2 separate regions of the Homo sapiens genome follow, and region 2 is linked to region 1. Evidence: fine-mapped expression QTL. Tissue or cell type: whole blood. Region 1 holds a variant in brackets; the other region holds the start of a gene. All regions are shown on one strand. Distances are from middle to middle.

The links. PIP is the estimated chance that this variant, and not a neighbour inherited with it, causes the effect.
Region 2: CCDC149 starts here. The variant in region 1 is fine-mapped to the expression of CCDC149 in whole blood (TOPMed, PIP 0.95).

The regions. Positions count from the first base shown.
Region 1 is chr4:24,975,144-24,983,324 of GRCh38, forward strand. It overlaps LOC102723675 (a long non-coding RNA gene), which reads left to right and starts at 4,675. Exons shown (of 6, transcript XR_007058082.1): 1 at 4,675-5,427. It also overlaps a transcript of CCDC149 not described here. The variant A/T (reference allele first, on the strand shown) is at 4,924.
Region 2 is chr4:24,909,296-24,917,476 of GRCh38, forward strand. It overlaps CCDC149 (coiled-coil domain containing 149), which reads right to left and starts at 3,747. Exons shown (of 13, transcript NM_001395273.1): 1 at 3,522-3,747. The coding sequence starts at 3,569. RefSeq lists enhancers at 7,544-8,113, 8,114-8,181.

The DNA of each region.
Region 1 (8,181 bases):
TTGGACTTTCCAGCCTCCATAGCTATGAGAAATAAATTTCTGTTCTTTATTAATTACCCAATCTCAGGTATTCTATGATAACTATTCTGTTATAGCAGCACAAAACAGACTAAAACAGGAAGGGAAGGGAGGAAGACAAAACAGAAGATAGGAGAGAAAGGGAAAAGAAGGGAGGCAAGACAAAAGGAGAAGGGGGAAGGAGAGGGAGGGGAGGGGAGGAGAAGGCAGAGAAGAGGAGGGGATCTTGAGGGGAGGGGAGAGAATGTAAGAGGGGAGGGAAGGAGAAGGAAGGGGGAGGAGGGGGACAGGAGAGGGAGGGGAGGGGAAGAGAAGAAAGCGGGGAGGAGAGGGGACAGGAGAGGGAAAGGAAGGAAAAGTAGGATAGGGAAGGGAAGGAGAGAAAAGATGAAAGGAGAGGAGAGGGGAGGGGAAGAGAGGAGAGGGAAGGGGAGGAGAGAGGAAGCATACGTCCTGGGGAAGGAGCTCATTGATGGGGCTTGGGTCCATGCCCATCCCTGAACCAGTCACTGTGCACTATCACTAAGTCCCGTGTCCACCCCTGCAACCATGAAAGTAAACACAGTGTCAAGGGTGGTCCCCCAAAGAAAGGAGAAGTAACGGGTCCCAGGCAAGCAGAAACCACAGATGTCTTCTCTGCCAATCCCGCATCTGTCTTTGAATTTTGTAATTAGAAATGAGTTTTTTTTTCTGATCAGGCCCATCATTTAACTCAAGCCTGGTTGGGGGTCCTGGGAAGGGCAAAGTCTGTGTTCCAGTGTGGTCCATGCATACAAGGAAGAGAAAAGAAGAGAAAAGGAGGGTAGAGGAGGAGAGGGGACAGGAAAAAGAAGGAGAAGGGAGAGGGAAAAGAGGGGAAGGGAGGGAAGGAGAGGGAGGGGGGAAGGGAGGGAAGTGGAAAAGAGAGGAAAGATTTGGTGGCAATCATTTGAGCCCCGTGTTTAGCTGTGCCTACTTTAGATTTTTCAGTTATTTGAGCCAATAATTACCTTTTTCCTTAAATGAGTTTAATTCTTTTTAAGAGTACGTGGAGCTCAAAGAGATCCTTACTAATCTATCTGGGCCCCTTAGAGTAATTCCAGGGTCCATTTATCAAGGAAAGCAACATGGAGCACAGGCAGAGTCCCCCACTTGAGGCCATCTGCAGGTATCCTCCTTGCTTGGGCACTGTGTGGCCCTGGAACCAGGCCTGTGTCAGGGTGAAGGGCTGGAGAAGGTGGAAATGGGTATAGAGGTATCACCAGGACATTTATCCAAAGTGTGTCATCAGGCTGGGTGCGGTGGCTCATGTCTGTAATCTCAGCACTTTGGGAGGCTGAGGCTGGCGAATCGCCTGAGGTCAGGAGTTTGAGACCAGCCTGGCCAACATGGTGACACTCCATCTCTACCAAAAATACAAAAATTAGCTGGGCATGGTGGTGCATGCCTGTAGTCCCAGCTACTCAGGAGGCTGAGGCAGGAGAATTGCTTGAACCCAGGAGGCAGAGATTGCAGTGAGCCGAGATCGTGCCACTGCACTCCAGCCATCTGGGCAACAGAGCGAGACTGACTCCCTCTCAAAAAAACAAAAAACAAAAAGTGTGCCATCATCTGGCCTGCGCTGGTATAGTGTCCTTTCTGAAGGATGTTCCCAGAAGTGTTGTCAGGTGTGTGCAATGGACTCCAGCTCTGGAGCCAAGCGGGGATTTGGAAGCTATGTGCGATTGTGGAGAACATCTGGCCGCTAGAGGAGTGTGCATGGACCACACTAGAACACAGGCTCTGCGCTTCCCAGGATGCCTATCCAGGCTTGATTAAAGGATGGACCTGATCAGGAAAAAACAAACAAACAAACCTCATTTCTAATTACAAAATCCAAAGACAGGCATGCAGGATTGGCAGGGAAGACATCTGTGGTTTCTGCTTGCCCGGGATCCATTATTTCCCCTTTCTTTGGGGGACCACCCTTGATACTGTGTTGCTTTCATGGTTGCTGGGGTGGACATGGGACTTAGTGACGATGTACAATGACTGGTTCATGGATGGGCATGGACCCAAGCCCCATCAATGAGCTCCTTCCCCAGGACATTGGCTGGAGCTTTGGGAAAGAGGTATTCTTTTTCCATCGAGGACTCCAAGCTGGCAGGTTGGAGATCCTCTTAGCTATCTTGTGTGGAGATGCTGCCTAAGATCTACTAAGCACAGACAAAAGCAGAGCCATGCGTCAGGAAATATCCATTTCTCCCTTGATCCAGCCATTCCTGAAACCACGTGCATTCATTTTACAAACTAACATTTCACTCCCCAACACCTCTGTTATTTATAGTTAAGCCAGTTTGAATCAAGTCTCTGTCATTTGTGGCCAAACAAATCCTAATTAATATTATCTGTGAATCAACAAGCCTGTCTAGCTAATACCAGATGTTGAAGATGATAAAAAAGATGATGTCGTGGACCCAAATGAAATACCTAAGGTGTGGTAGAAGGCGCCCAGCACTGGAGTCCAGCTCTAGTCCCAGCCCTGCTACCCCTAAAGAGGATAAAATAGCTTAACCTCCCCTAAGGCATTACCAATACAGGGATGATAATACCACATAGGTCTGCCTGTTAGGAATATTGACCAGATGATAATATGCATGTGAAAGCATTTTGAAATTCAAAAGCTCAATACACACATAGTAACAAGGTATGCTATAAATCTATGCTACCTGGCTGGGCACAGTGGCTCATGCCTGTAATCCCAGCAGTTTAATAGGCCAAGGTAGGAGGATTGCTTGAGGTCAGGAGTTCAAGTCCAGCCTGGGTAACATAACCACAATCCCATCTCTACAAAAATAAAAAATTAACTGGACTTGATGGTGCACACCTTTAGTCCCAGCTACTCAGGAAACCGAGGCAGAAGGATTGCTTGAACCCAAGACTTTGGGGCTGCACTGACCTATATTTGCACCACTAACTCCAGCCTCAGTGACAGGGCAAGACCCTGTCTCAAAAATAAATAAATACATGAATAAATAAATCTGTGCTGTCCAACACAGTAGCTACTAACTACCTGCTGTTACTGAGCATGTAAAATGTGGCTAGTCTGAGCTGAAATGTGCTGTAAGTGTAAAACACACATCAGCTTTCACAGACTTGATTTTTTTAAATAATATAAATATCCTATTAATAATTTTTATATTAATTTCATATCGAAAGGATATTTGTGATCTACTGAGTTAAATAAAGTACATTGTTAAAGTTAATTTCATCTGTTTCTTTCCCCTCATTTAATGTAGACACCAGGAAATTGTAAGTTGCATGTGGTGGTTTGCATATGTGGTTCACATTCTATTTCTGTTGGCAGCACTTGTCTAAATTGTGAGGGATGGTTCGTTGTTGGCGTGGGAGGTCAGTGAATTCTGGAGGAGTCAGAAAAATCAGAAAAACCTCAGATGAAGAGACAAGGATGGGGGTAGGATGGCATTTGGAACCCATTCTCCATGGTTGTTGTCTCTAATTTTCCCTGTGAATAAAATGAACAGTCTTCCCTTTCCCCATCATTCCTCCCACCATTCGCCACCCACCGCCCACCAGAGAATGAGATGGTTTTAGCATCCTGTGTGCTTTTCACAGCTGAAATGCTGGCAATTTTGCCACAGATTCAGATCTACTCGGACTCACTGGTTTCCTTTGGTAAAATGCCCCATATCCAGAAGGGAAGTCTGCTGGCTTCTCTGACCTGGGCGTGTCTTTAGGATTTCTCAATAGGATGACATCTGTGGCTGGTTGTCCAACACTCATGGCTCCCTTCTGGAAGCGGTGCACTTTGTTCTTACCCTGAGTTACCCCGAAAAGGAGACCCTGAGAAGGACTGCATGCAAATGGTTTGGGGGCACAGGAATTGCAGGGAACACTTTGAGAGAGCAGGGAAGTGAGACAGGGAACAAATGGAAGCCAGTAAAGGGTGAATTAATGAGGCCACCATGGGGGACATGGATTCAGTGTCTTGGGAAATACCTTGAGAAATACTGTGCAGCATATCTCCTTACTGTCCCTGTGTAAGGAACCTGGGATATTTATTAACTAACTTTTATTCCTTAGTATTGAGGGTCAATCTTGGGGTGTTAACTTTCTGGTATTTCCAGCTTGGGTGTACACCACCAGGAACAGGGAATGCCCTCAGACAGAAAGATGCAGGCAATCTTTGAAGTATACAGGAAATGTCTGCAAGTGATCTTCAGGATAGGCTGCAGGGAAATGGTCAGAGCACAGACAGGGTCTGCTATACCTTAGAAGAAAGAGAGAAGACATGGAGAGAAGTGGGGTCCTTGGCAATAGTCCTGATCTACTGGATCAAGCCTTACTTGAAGCCTACCTCTAGACTTGTCATTACCTGCCCCTATATATTCCATATGCTATTTAAACTGGTTTGAGTTTTCTGTTATTCACAATGTAATGATTTCTAACTCAGTCTTTTCCTAACCTGGTTCCTACAATTGAGCAGATTCCCTGTGGTTTCAAAATCAGGAAACAGGGCTGATGGGTAAGTCATGTCATCATTTCCTTCCTGAAACCAGAGTGCAACGGAAAGAAAAGGAGGAGTTGCATGGGATGGTGGCCAAGTTCTCATTGTGACCCAGGGACCATTACAGTAAAAGGAACCTGCCTAGGGAACTTGCTCAGCTCTCTCTAAACACAGTCAGCTCCATGTTCCCAACTGAATGTCACGTCAATGCGTCGATGTTAATTCCGGTAAACTGAATCCACCCGAGAATCTTGTTGTGGAAGCAAAATCGGCTTAAAAGGCTTCTTTGATGCACAGGGAATTCTCACAAGCAATAAATTAAAAATAATCAACGAGTTATTTTATATAATCTGTATATAATATAAAGTAATTGTGTCCATAAATAACGAGGCAGTTAAACAGGAAAAGAAAGGATTTTT[A/T]CCTGACGTTCACATCGCTTCACAAGGTTTAGTGGATTCAGAAGGACATCTGGACTCCAGGAAAATTTAAGCGTAGCATTTTGAGACTTCCCTAAGGCCCCCTTCTCTAGTACGCAATCGCGGATTCACCAGCTTGAGTCAGTTGGCCTCAGTTTTGCTTTTGGAGGTTTAAGTCGGGTGGTGGGAAGAGATACATTTCCATTCCTGATATGGCCACAAGAGGGAGCTCCCAATGGTCGGCTGCACCTGAAAGTCCTGTCCGTGAAAACTGACAAAGAAAACTTGATTTAAAAGGCGTCTTCTGATAAACCTCAGCATCTCCTTACTAACATACTAAGAGCAATCACTGAACACTTTTCGTATGTTCAATGCGTCCTCGCGGGATCTGAGAAGCATTGTCCTATTAAATCTCAGTCGTCTGATTTTCAGCATCAATTTATCTTGGGAGCTGCTCCTGCATTTTATAAGGTGAATTCTACAGCAACGAGATTAAAGATTCAGAAAGTGAGTAAAGTTAACACTGAGCCCTTGGGCCTGGTAAATTGACAACGGAGCCAGAATAAGTATTTACCATTGTAAAGCTCTGATCCTCATGGCACAGTTGTTTCTGAAGAATGCTACCAGCACTTCCCTGCCCTGCATTTGTCTGGCTTTTTCCATTCATATTTGAATCGATTCTCTCTCTCTCTCTCTCTTTTTTTTTAATTATTATTATCATTTTCCAGGGACTTTGGGTCATTATAAGATTGCAGGTAATGACAGACTGTAATTAAGCCTAAAACAGATTTTTCTTTTAGGAGACAGAAGAATCCACTCTAGCTGAGACTCCAGATTGCCTGGGCTGTAATTTACGGTGCTATCACAAAGGGGTCCTTTTTCCGCATGGTGCTCTGCGGTGATGAGCCAGAAGCTGAAGCTGAGGGGTGTGTGACTCTCCCGCACACTCTCTGGAGTGAGCAGAATGGACGCTTAAATGGCTAAGTATAGCTTGAAACTGATTACAGGCCAGATCCCACTATTGTGCATCATCAGTTGTCATTGTTGAGACTGAAATTGCACTGGGATGTTTCTCTTTGTCACCGGCTCCAAGCTCATTTCTAGGACAGGAGTGAAACCGTATGGTGAGCCTCGGGCCCAAGCACAGGGAGAATTGTTCTTCTGGTGTGTCCCCCAAGGAAGAGCTTGGCAGGTCTTTGGCAGTGGAAGATGGGCTGGCTTCAGTCATGATACCTATAACATTGGTATTGCTAGGGCTTCCAGATTTATGGATAGTAAACTCTAATCTCTAGCAAAGAAGGTTGAAATTGTAGCTCTTCCTCAGTTGCTGTGTGAACTTAAGCAAGCAGCTTAACTTCTCTGGCCTTAGTTTTCTTATCTGTACAACAGAACTAATTATAGTTACTCTCTGATATGGTTTGGCTGTGTCCCCACTCAAATCTCATCTTGAACTGTAGCTCCTATGATTCCCACGTGTTGTGCGAGGGACCTGGTGGGAGATAATTGAATCAGGGGAGCAGGTCTTTCGTGTGCTGTTCTCATGATAGCGGACAGGTCTCACAAGATCTGATGGTTTTATAAAGGGGAGTTTCCCAACACAAGTTCTCTTGTCTGCTGCCATATAAGACGTGCCTTTCACCTCCCACCATGATTGTGAGGCCTCTCCAGCCACATGGAATTGTGAGTCCATTAAACCTCTTTTTTTGTAAATTGCCCAGTCTTGGGTACGTCTTTATCAGCAGTGTAAAAATGGACTAATACACTCTCCTATTCTCAAGGTAGATTTGCAGAGCAATGAAATGAGATATATGAAGACCCCAAGATATATATATATATATATATATATAGATAGATAGATAGATAGATAGATATTCACACACACACACATACACTCAGGCACTGTACACACACATGCACAAACATAATAGGCATAGAAGATATAGAAACTACCCATATGCCCATATGTATTATTATGGGTATGTGTGTGTGTGTGTGTGTGTGTGTGTGTGTGTGTGTGTGTGTGGTTTCTTGGTAAAAGCACTGGGGTAAGACTATGGAGCGTTCATATGCTAGGAGATGAAGTCTGGACCTGACTGCATAGTAACGATAATAATAATAATCTTGCATTCAGGGCTTATTGTGAGCCAGGCACTGTTCTAAGCTCTTTGCATGTATGAAAGCAGCGGTTTTCAATAGAAGCATTATCAGCATTCAGGCAGAACAATTCTTCATTGTCAGTGGGACTGTCCTAAGCCTTGTGTGATTACCAAAGGTCTCTCAAGACCCTCATCATCTCTGCTAACGAAAGGCAGCCCAACTCCCCTGCACTTTTAAAAACACCCAGCTGAGAACCAATTGCCTAAGTATAGATATGTACTCTCCAATATGGAAGCTACTGGCCACGGGTGGCTATGAATGGCTTGAAATGAAGTTAGTCTGAATTGGAGTGTGCTGCAAGTGGAAAAAAAACAAACACTGGATTTTGAAGATTTGGCATGAAAAAAATCGTATTAATATTTTAAAAGATTGATTACATGATGAGATGATAATATTTTGGATAGATTAGAGTAAATGAGGTATTTAAATTCATTTCACCTGATTCTTGTTGCTTTTTTCTTTTTTCTTTTTTTTTTTTTTGAGAGGGAGTCTCACTCTGTTGCCCAGGCTGGAGTGCAGTGGCGTGATCTCAGCTTACTGCAACCTCTGCCTCCCAGGTTCAAGCGATTCTCCTGCCTCAGCCTCCTGAGAGCTGGGATTACAGGCACCTGCCATCATGCCTGGCTAATTTTTGTATTTTTGTAGAGATGGGGGTTTCCCCATGTTGGCCAGGCTGGTCTTGAACTCCTGACCTCAGGTGATCCACCTGCCTTGGCCTCCCAAAGTGCTGGGATTACAGGCGTGAGCCACTGCACCCTGCCTCTTGTTGCTTTTTTGATGTGGCTACTAGAGAATGTTAAAGGACAGCCAGAGCTTGCATTTGTGGTTTGTGTTCTATTTTTATTAGACAGTGCTGGAATGGACAGTGGGATGCTGGCAAGGGCTTTTGAGCCAAAATGGTGTCAGAGTGACTGTGGGGGACACTGCTCGGCCAGCCCAGCCAATATTCGTTTCTGTTTCTTCTATACTAGCAAAATCCTGATTGTATTTGTGATGGTCTTGTGTTCAAATACTCTGCTCCTTAGATCCCATGTAACCTAGTTTTTGTCAAAAAGCATAAATGGAAGTCAACTGGGTGGGCCATCTGGGGAAGCTGTTGTTAAC
Region 2 (8,181 bases), 66 kb before region 1:
GAAAATCCCATGTAGTCCAGATTAGCTGTGCAGTGATGTCTTCCACAGGTCCTTCTGCCAGGTCCCCAAACCATTTCGTAACACCACAGCTGCTGAGCACACTCTTCCCTGAATCTTACCTGTCTGGTACCAGACCCAGTCACACCCATGGAACCCCTGCCAGCCAAACTTGACTGGGCAGGGGAATTACCTGGGCAGCTCAGCTTGTAAGAAAGGCAGATCAGGGGGCTGCAACCCCAGGCACTTTTCAGCAGTAGGTGTATTAGTTTCTTGTGGCTGCTTGATATGGTTTGGCTCTGTGTCCCCACTCAAATCTCACCTTGAATTGCATTCCCATAACTCCCACATGTTGTGGGAGGGACCTGGTGGGAGATAATTGAATCATGGGGCTAGTTTCCTCCATAATGTTCTCGTGATAGTGAATAAGTCTCACGAGATCTGATGGTTTTATAAAGAGGAGTTCTCCTGCAGAAGCTCTCTCTCTTTGCCTGCTGCCATCCATGTAAGATGTTACTTGCTCCTCCTTGCCTGCTGCCATCCATGTAAGATGTTACTTGCTCCTCCTTGCCTTCCAGCATGATTGTGAGGCCTCCCCAGTCATGTGGAACAGCAGGCCCATGAAATCTCTCTTTCTTTTGTAAATCACCCAGTCTCAGGTATGTCTTTATAAGCAGCATGAAAACGGACTAATACATTGCTGTAACAAATGATCATAAACGGGGTGGCTTAAAACAACAGGAGTGTATTCACTCACAGTTATAGAGGCCGGAAGTCCAAAAGCAAGGTGTCAACAGTTGTTTTTTTCTGGGGACTTTGAGGGAGAATCTGCCTCTTCCAGCTTCTGGGAGCTGCCAGCGACCTCTGGCATGCCTTGCCATGTGGCTGCATCACTCCAATCTCTACCTTTGTCTTCACATGGTCTTCCTTTCATGCATCTCCGTCTTCCCATAGCCTGCTCCCTTGTGTGTCTGTGGCTTAAATCTCTGTCCTTTCTCTTCTAAGGTATCAGTCATTAGATTTAGGACCTACCCTAAATCCAGGGTGATCTCATCTAAAGATCCTTAACTTGATCATATCTGCAAAGGCCCTATTTCCAAATAAAGTCACATTTGCAGCTACTGGGGTTAGGTCTCGGATGCAGCTATGGTGGGGAGGTGGGGGGAGCAGGATACATAATTCAACTCACTACAGTAAATTTGGGAGAGACCCATAAACTTGAATTTTTCACAGGCACCCAAAATGACTCTGATGCAGGTGATCTGTAGGCCATACTCTAAGAAACACCAAGCCATTTGCTGCGGACTCAAAGTTGAATCAGACATGGTCTCCTTCCTTGGGAAGCCTGCCATCTAGCAGAAGATACAGACAGATGAGCAATGATTAAAATAGCAAGTGTGGCCTAGCAAGGCTCAGACAAGCAAGGCTCAAGCAATGAGTCAGACAGACCAGGATTCAAATCCTGCCTCTTCCACTTACCAGATGTGAGGCTCTGTGCAAGTTCCTTAGCCTGTCTGAGCCACTGTTTCCTTATCTGTAAAATAAGAAAGAATTCCTACCTTATGTCATTGTGAATATGAGGCCATGTAAAATGCTTAATATGAAGGATGCACTCAAAAAATAGTCATTAGTTATTATTAAGGTGGGAAGTAAGTTAGACCCATTTTCACCTCCCCCATGGCCCCTGGCTACGTGCCCACCTCATGTTTGTGAAGTTAAGGAGGTATTACTCTGGAGAAACTCTGCTGGGATGGGCAGGAAAACTCCTGAAGGACCTACTTCAGGATTCACTGACTTATTCAACAAGCATTTTTCGAGCACCTGCTGCATACAGAGCTCTGTGTATAGGCCCTGGAATAAAGAACCAAACAAAGCACACGGCCTAGTGAGGAAGCCTATTGTTACAATAATGTGGTCAGGGCAAGGTGAAGGTTAAGCCCAGCCAACTGAGGGGCACCCCATGCCATTTAGCACTTGAAGCCTTTCCATCCTTTAGTTCACTCTCACTGTCTACGGTATGACCTTCCTCCCAGACTATATCATGAAACCCCCAGGAGTTCTTTGAGGGTAGGGGAGTTCTTTGTCTTATTCACCACTGAATCCCAAGCACCTCACAATGTACTGACTCCTAACAGGCACCTGATATGCAATTGTTGGAGTAGTGAAGATTCTGCTGCTATTTAAGGGCCTAACACTGGACTTCTAAGGAGAACTACCTCCAGCCTCCTTGACTACTAAGTATGATTCTTGATGGGACCAGAAACAAGGTCCCCAGAGGATCTGCCCCTTAACATAAAGCCTGACAGTTTGAGAAGATGGAGCCAGGCTGCAATACAATGGATCATAACACCAGACAGTTAGGAGAGCTTTCAACTACTAGACCAATGCTGAGCAAACTAAACTAGGGCAGGAGCTACCGCATGTCATTCCTCTTCAGAAACACAACGCTCTGCACACACTGGGCATGAAGCACTATTATCAGACTGACCTGGAGACCCAGAAAACGATGAAAGGAGTGAGGGAGTAGAGGGTTTCCCTTCCCATAACCCACAAGGAAAGGAAAAGAGCAAACCGATACACTCTGCATTGTGTGCACAGGATTAAAGAAAAGGAAGCCCCAAGTTGGCCTTGGCTGGAGCTTGGTTCTCAGAAGGGAGAAATTCCCCGGCATGGGTAAGTAACACCAGGAATTGCCCCCACAAATGGTGGCAAACCAGGGCAACTTACCTGGTTGCCTCCAGGTGAGAGGGAGAAATCCGCATTCCCTCTCACCTGGAGAGGCCGGCAGCTTCTCCCGGCAGGCCGGCAAACTCTTAGGGGGAACTGAAGAGCAAACAGCATAGGATCCTGAAAGTGGACCCCCAGGGTATGTTTATGACAAAAGAGTCGCAGGGCAGGGGGACACGGTGTTCTGTGCTTCCACAAATCGAATCACTTCTGCACCTGTGTTTCACTTTTTCGATAAATGCCCCTCCCCACCTTACACATGGTAGGCCTGCAGTAAACACGTGTTGATTGAATTGAGCAAGTGAATGAGTGAACGGCTGCAGCGGACCCCCGAACTCCCCCAACTCGAACCACCGCCGCAGGTAATTCCACCTGGCCCAGGTTCCACCCCAGGGCTCGGATTCTCCCCCATGGCACCACCTTCCCGTTTCAGTCCCAGGCGTCCAATTGTTTGGCTCCACAACAGTGGCGAGCGGGCAGGCAGGTGGGGCTTGGCACCTTCTGCTCCCGGATCCCAGGGCTTCAGCCTCCAATCCAGGGCCAACCCCTGCCTTGGGGGGAAGGCCCCTCCCCAAAGGCTGACACCAGATGGCGCGGAAGAAAGTGGCGCCCGCGCAGACCCGAAAGTGCAGGAGGAGCGGCGCACCTGGCGGGGTCGCGCGGGTGCGGCAGCCGCGGCCACTTGGAGTGCGCGCCCCCCTCTCGTCCCTCCCAGCTCGGCCTCTCTGGGGGCGCGGGCCCGGGGCTGGCGGCCGCTCGGCCCGGCCCATCCCGCCTGGCCGGCGCCGCGGCCTCACCTCGCTCACCAGCCCCTGCCAGTCGCTCTCAGTCCGGTCGCCGTTCATGGCCTCCTCCTCCATGCGCTGGCCGGCCTCCTGGACCCCCGCCGCCTCCTCCTCCTCGCGACGTCGCGTCGCCGCCGCCGCCCGGGCCCCGCGCGGCCCCGAGAGGGCCCGGCGCCTCCGAGCCGCTGCGCCGCCGCCTCTCGCGGCCGCCAGCGCTGTTGACTCCACGTCAGCCTCCGCCGGAGGGAAAGGGAGGAGGGGCGCGGCCGCCGGGGCCGCAGACACAGCCCGGGCCGCAGCCGAGCCCCGCCGGGCCCGCCCCGCGCCCTCAGCCCCGCGACCTCGGGCTCCGCGCCTCCTGCCCGGCCTCTAGGCAAGGGGAAGCCAGGGTCTCAGCCTACAGGTCACTCCGGACCCCTCAGCGCTCTCCGCGCGGGAGGCGGGCCCCACGGGCAGGCCTGTGTCCCCCGCAAGAAGCAAATCCCCAAATCCAGTCCTTCTCCGACCACCATCACGACTCCCACGCCTAGAATGCAAGCTCCCCGAGGGCAGGGGTTTCCTTGGTTCGCAGATGTGCCTTTGGCAAGATCCTGGCCCATAGGAGATGCTCTACATATATTTATTGGACGAATATTTGTTGAACGCAAGAATGAATGAACCACGTTTTATTATATACTTAGCATTGTTTTTTAAACTATTAGTGCTTGCTTATATATTTTTTAACGTATCATTTGTCATTAATAGAAAGCAAATGTAAAAATTGAAAATAAAGCATTATTCAATTCTAAATAGGGCCAAAAACTCTGAGGGAGATGGTTAGCATGGGTTGAGAGAGGTGTCAAAGACAAATTGGCACTGGTGGCATTCCATGGCTCATGCCTGTAATCCCAGCACCTTGGGAGGCTGAGGCAGGAGGATCCCTTGAGGACAGGAGTTCAAGAGCAGCCTCGGCCACAAAGTGACACACCCCCTCTTTACAAAAAATAAAATAATTAGCAAAAGGGGAAGGCATTGGCATTAAGCTGAGACTTCTCCTAAGAGGAAAGACTGAAAGAGAATGACAGAGGGAAGGTGAATCACACACATAAGTCAATCGTATTCAAGGTGCTGTTCCTGTGACACCTAAAATCCCCTCTTGGACCACTATCAATAGTGAGCCCTCTGTACTCGCAGAAACGCTGTGTGTGGAGATGAGCAAGTAGGTTGAGAAGTTGTGAACCCATTGTACAGTTGTGGAAGCATCATTACCAACATTTATTTATAATTTTTAGCCCCTGTTGATCCTGGATCAACCCTGTGAAATGGATGTTATCCTCATTTATTAGATGGGGAAACTGAGGCCTGAAACGTGGAGAAACAGGGACTCAACTAGGACTTCTGGCTCTAGCATCTTGGAAATCTAAGAATGAAGTATCACCTTGAAAGTTTGTTCTTGGCCTTGTTTTGCACATGATAGACTGTTTGCAAAATGGCAGCAATCATTCCCCTTCTTTGTCCCTTGCCCTGCCACTGTCTCTTTCACTCTGTGCTCAGTCATGTAACTTGCTTTGACCAAAGCAACGTTTGTACATGTGTTACCAGAAAAAAAAAAAAAAAAAAAGAAAAAAAAAGGCTTTTAAAGCAATTGTGCATTAGGATTTAACTCTTGCTTCTGCTCTTGGAAACCATGTAAATAAGCTCCGAATAGCTTGCTGGTTAAGGTAGGATTCCCAACCAACAGTCAACCATCACCAGATGTGTGAGTGAGGCCATTGCCTGCCGCCCCCTCCACGCCCCCCCACCCCCACCCGCACAGCTGATGACAAGCACATGAGTGAGCCCAGCTGAGACCAGCCGAAGAACCATCCAGCTGAGCCTTGCTCAACTAGCTGACTCACAGCATCACATACTAAATAAGTAGTTGTAGTTTAAGCCACTAAGTTTTAGGGCGATTTGCTAGGTATCAACAGGTAACTGAAATGGATGGTGACACAACTGATGAAGGGCCTGAATGGCTTGAACTCTCCCTGGCAGCCCTTCAAAAAGCAATAGTCCCTGGCATCATAATCTAAAGAAAATTTTACAACGGACTGGCTGGCCAGGAGCTAAGAAAAGGAACCAGTATACTAGTCAGCACATTGGTTTTCTGCCTGTTGTATACAACTGCAGCACTCATCCTGGGGAAGTTCAATAACATTGCACACCATGGTCCCTGTCCTAGGGGGCTTGCAAACTAAGGTGCTAGAGAACAGCAGAAAAAAAGGTGGGGCTAGAATGCAGCTAAAGCTTCTGGTCTTCTGACCATTCTGGGCTGCCTAACTCATTATCTTTTTAATCTAAGGAGCTAGAAAGAAGGTCATCCTTGAGCTGAATGTCTAGAGTTAATTAACTCAGTGCCAAGCACTTGTTCCTAAGCCTGACGTCTCATGCCTAAAAAGCAAGGTACTGTCTGCCAATATATTGCCCTCTGGCAAACCATCTGTTTTCATCCTGACCTGTGGATAAATAGACTGTAGGAAAAGTGGGCAGAACTTGGTCCATCTGCCTTTCAAGCCTCCTTGTCTGCACCTTGCTCTCTGCCTGCATTCAGGTGGGAAAGCCCATTCCAGTTTCCACAGTTAGCTGAGCCCTTCATGATATACCACTGCTCCTTTGGCGCCCTCACTGGTATTTCAGGCAGCAGGACAGACAATCAATGAGCGTTGGGAGCCAAGAAATCTTCGCATTCCAGACTATGTGCCTTTAAGACCACTCTCCCTGTGACTCCATTTCCCCTATTTGCTTTCCTTCTCCGAAATAAGTCAGACAGTTATTACGGTATTTAAAAATAAAGCTGGGGAGCAAAATCAAAGTGTGGCAAGCCTCTACCCTCCCCAGCATGTGGGGAGACTTTCAACTCGGTTGAAACAGCATCTCTAGCTGCCTGGGTTTTCCTTAGAGGTTTCATGCCCCAAGTGCCAGCTCAAACCTGCTTCGCTTGTGAGATGTGATGAAATCACAAACCAAGGCAATGTAGCTGCAAGCAATTCTTTTTTATCTCTTTTCATTTATGTAGCCTGACATTGAGTAATAATAATAATTAAATGCAGTTTAAGCTTTTAGGCACCTATACCAGAAGGCCTCTAGACACCTCATCAACAGCAGCCCAGACTGACAAAAAAGAGAGCTAATTATATTGTGGTTAACTTTTTTCAAAGAAGAAATAAACCCATACACCAACTATCTTTATCCCTGATAAAAGCAGTACATTAAATGTCCCATCCGACAGTCCATTTGCACAGGATCATTTTAAAACCTGGTGCCCTTGTCTTAAATGTGCCACCCTGTTACAAAGTATTGAGACGTTTGCTTTAGCCTCTATTTTCACATCCCCTTGGCTTTCTGAAAACTGATCTCTAGGGACCTAATTTTTCCATATATATTCATAGCCCCGGGACCAGTTTTATTGATTTATTTATGTGCACCTATAGTGTTAGAAGAAAGTACTTAGTTGCTTTTGAGTGATGCTTTTCACTTTTAAAAGTTTGAGAGGGTTTTAGACATGGAAACTCCAAAATAGCTTAATCTAAAAACTTGAGCCAGCACAGACTGATGAAAACAAACAAACAAAAAATCTCTGGAGAGATTGGGAAAGAAAGGATGATTTGAACTTATTGTTAGCAACCTAAGCTCTCATTATGGGTTCTATACTTACTTGCATGAAGACTCTGGCCAGGTCTCGGCAGCCCCAGACACGCGGGAAAGCCCTAAAGCTTTTGATGTGACTTCTCCAGACAGTATTTCAGTTCAAATTCTGGCTGCCCAAGCAAAATTCGGGCTGTTGGAGTTCTCATTAAAGGAAACTAAGCAAATCTCCAGTAGAGATTTTGGCCGGGCTTCTCTCTGAACTATATAGTTGGGGCAATATTCATGGCCATTTTTTTTCCCCAGTGACTTTTCTCCTGCCTCAATTAAGAAACTCAATCTGGGCAGAAAATGATTCATAATGACTGTGGTTTATAATGGTGTGTGTGTGTGTGTGTGTGTGTGTGTGTGTGTGTGTACATATATTTATTAATTAGCTCTATATGAGCCAGGAGGGCCATTTTGACAGGTCCTGCCAGGAGCCCCTATAGCCTGGCTGCTAAACTACTTCATTTGCTCTTGGTTTTAACCAGGATCAGGAGACTGCAGGTCCTGGTGAGTGCCACAGCCAGGCCTCCTGCAGAGGCCTGAGACCTGAGGTCCCCTGAACCACTGGCCTCAATTCTGTAGAAGATAAGCTTCTCTCTCCTCCCCCTACCTAGAGGTTCTCTGGGAAGGACCTCATCCATCATTTCCCTACAGAGGGCCAGCAGCCAGATACCAGAGGGGCAGATGGGGGATTCTGGCCGGGTTCCTGACTCAGGGAATCCTCTGTGTCTCTTAGACCCCTGAGCTCCCAGGTCCTCTCACGGCCACCCCTGCCAAGCCCTCCCTGCCCAGCGGCAAACAGTCAGCACGAGCTGCTCCCCTCCAGCCCCGCTGGCTGCCAATCAGCCAGGCAGCAGGGGGTGGAAGGAAGTTGCACTCCCTGCTGAACTGCCGCGCTCACAGTGGCTGAGTGGGGCTGATGACGGCCTGGCAGGCCGGGGACCCGCAGTTGTCATCCTAAGGGGGCACAGGCTTGAGCGTGATTGGCTTGGGCGTTGTGGGAGACAAGAGGTGGGGAGGA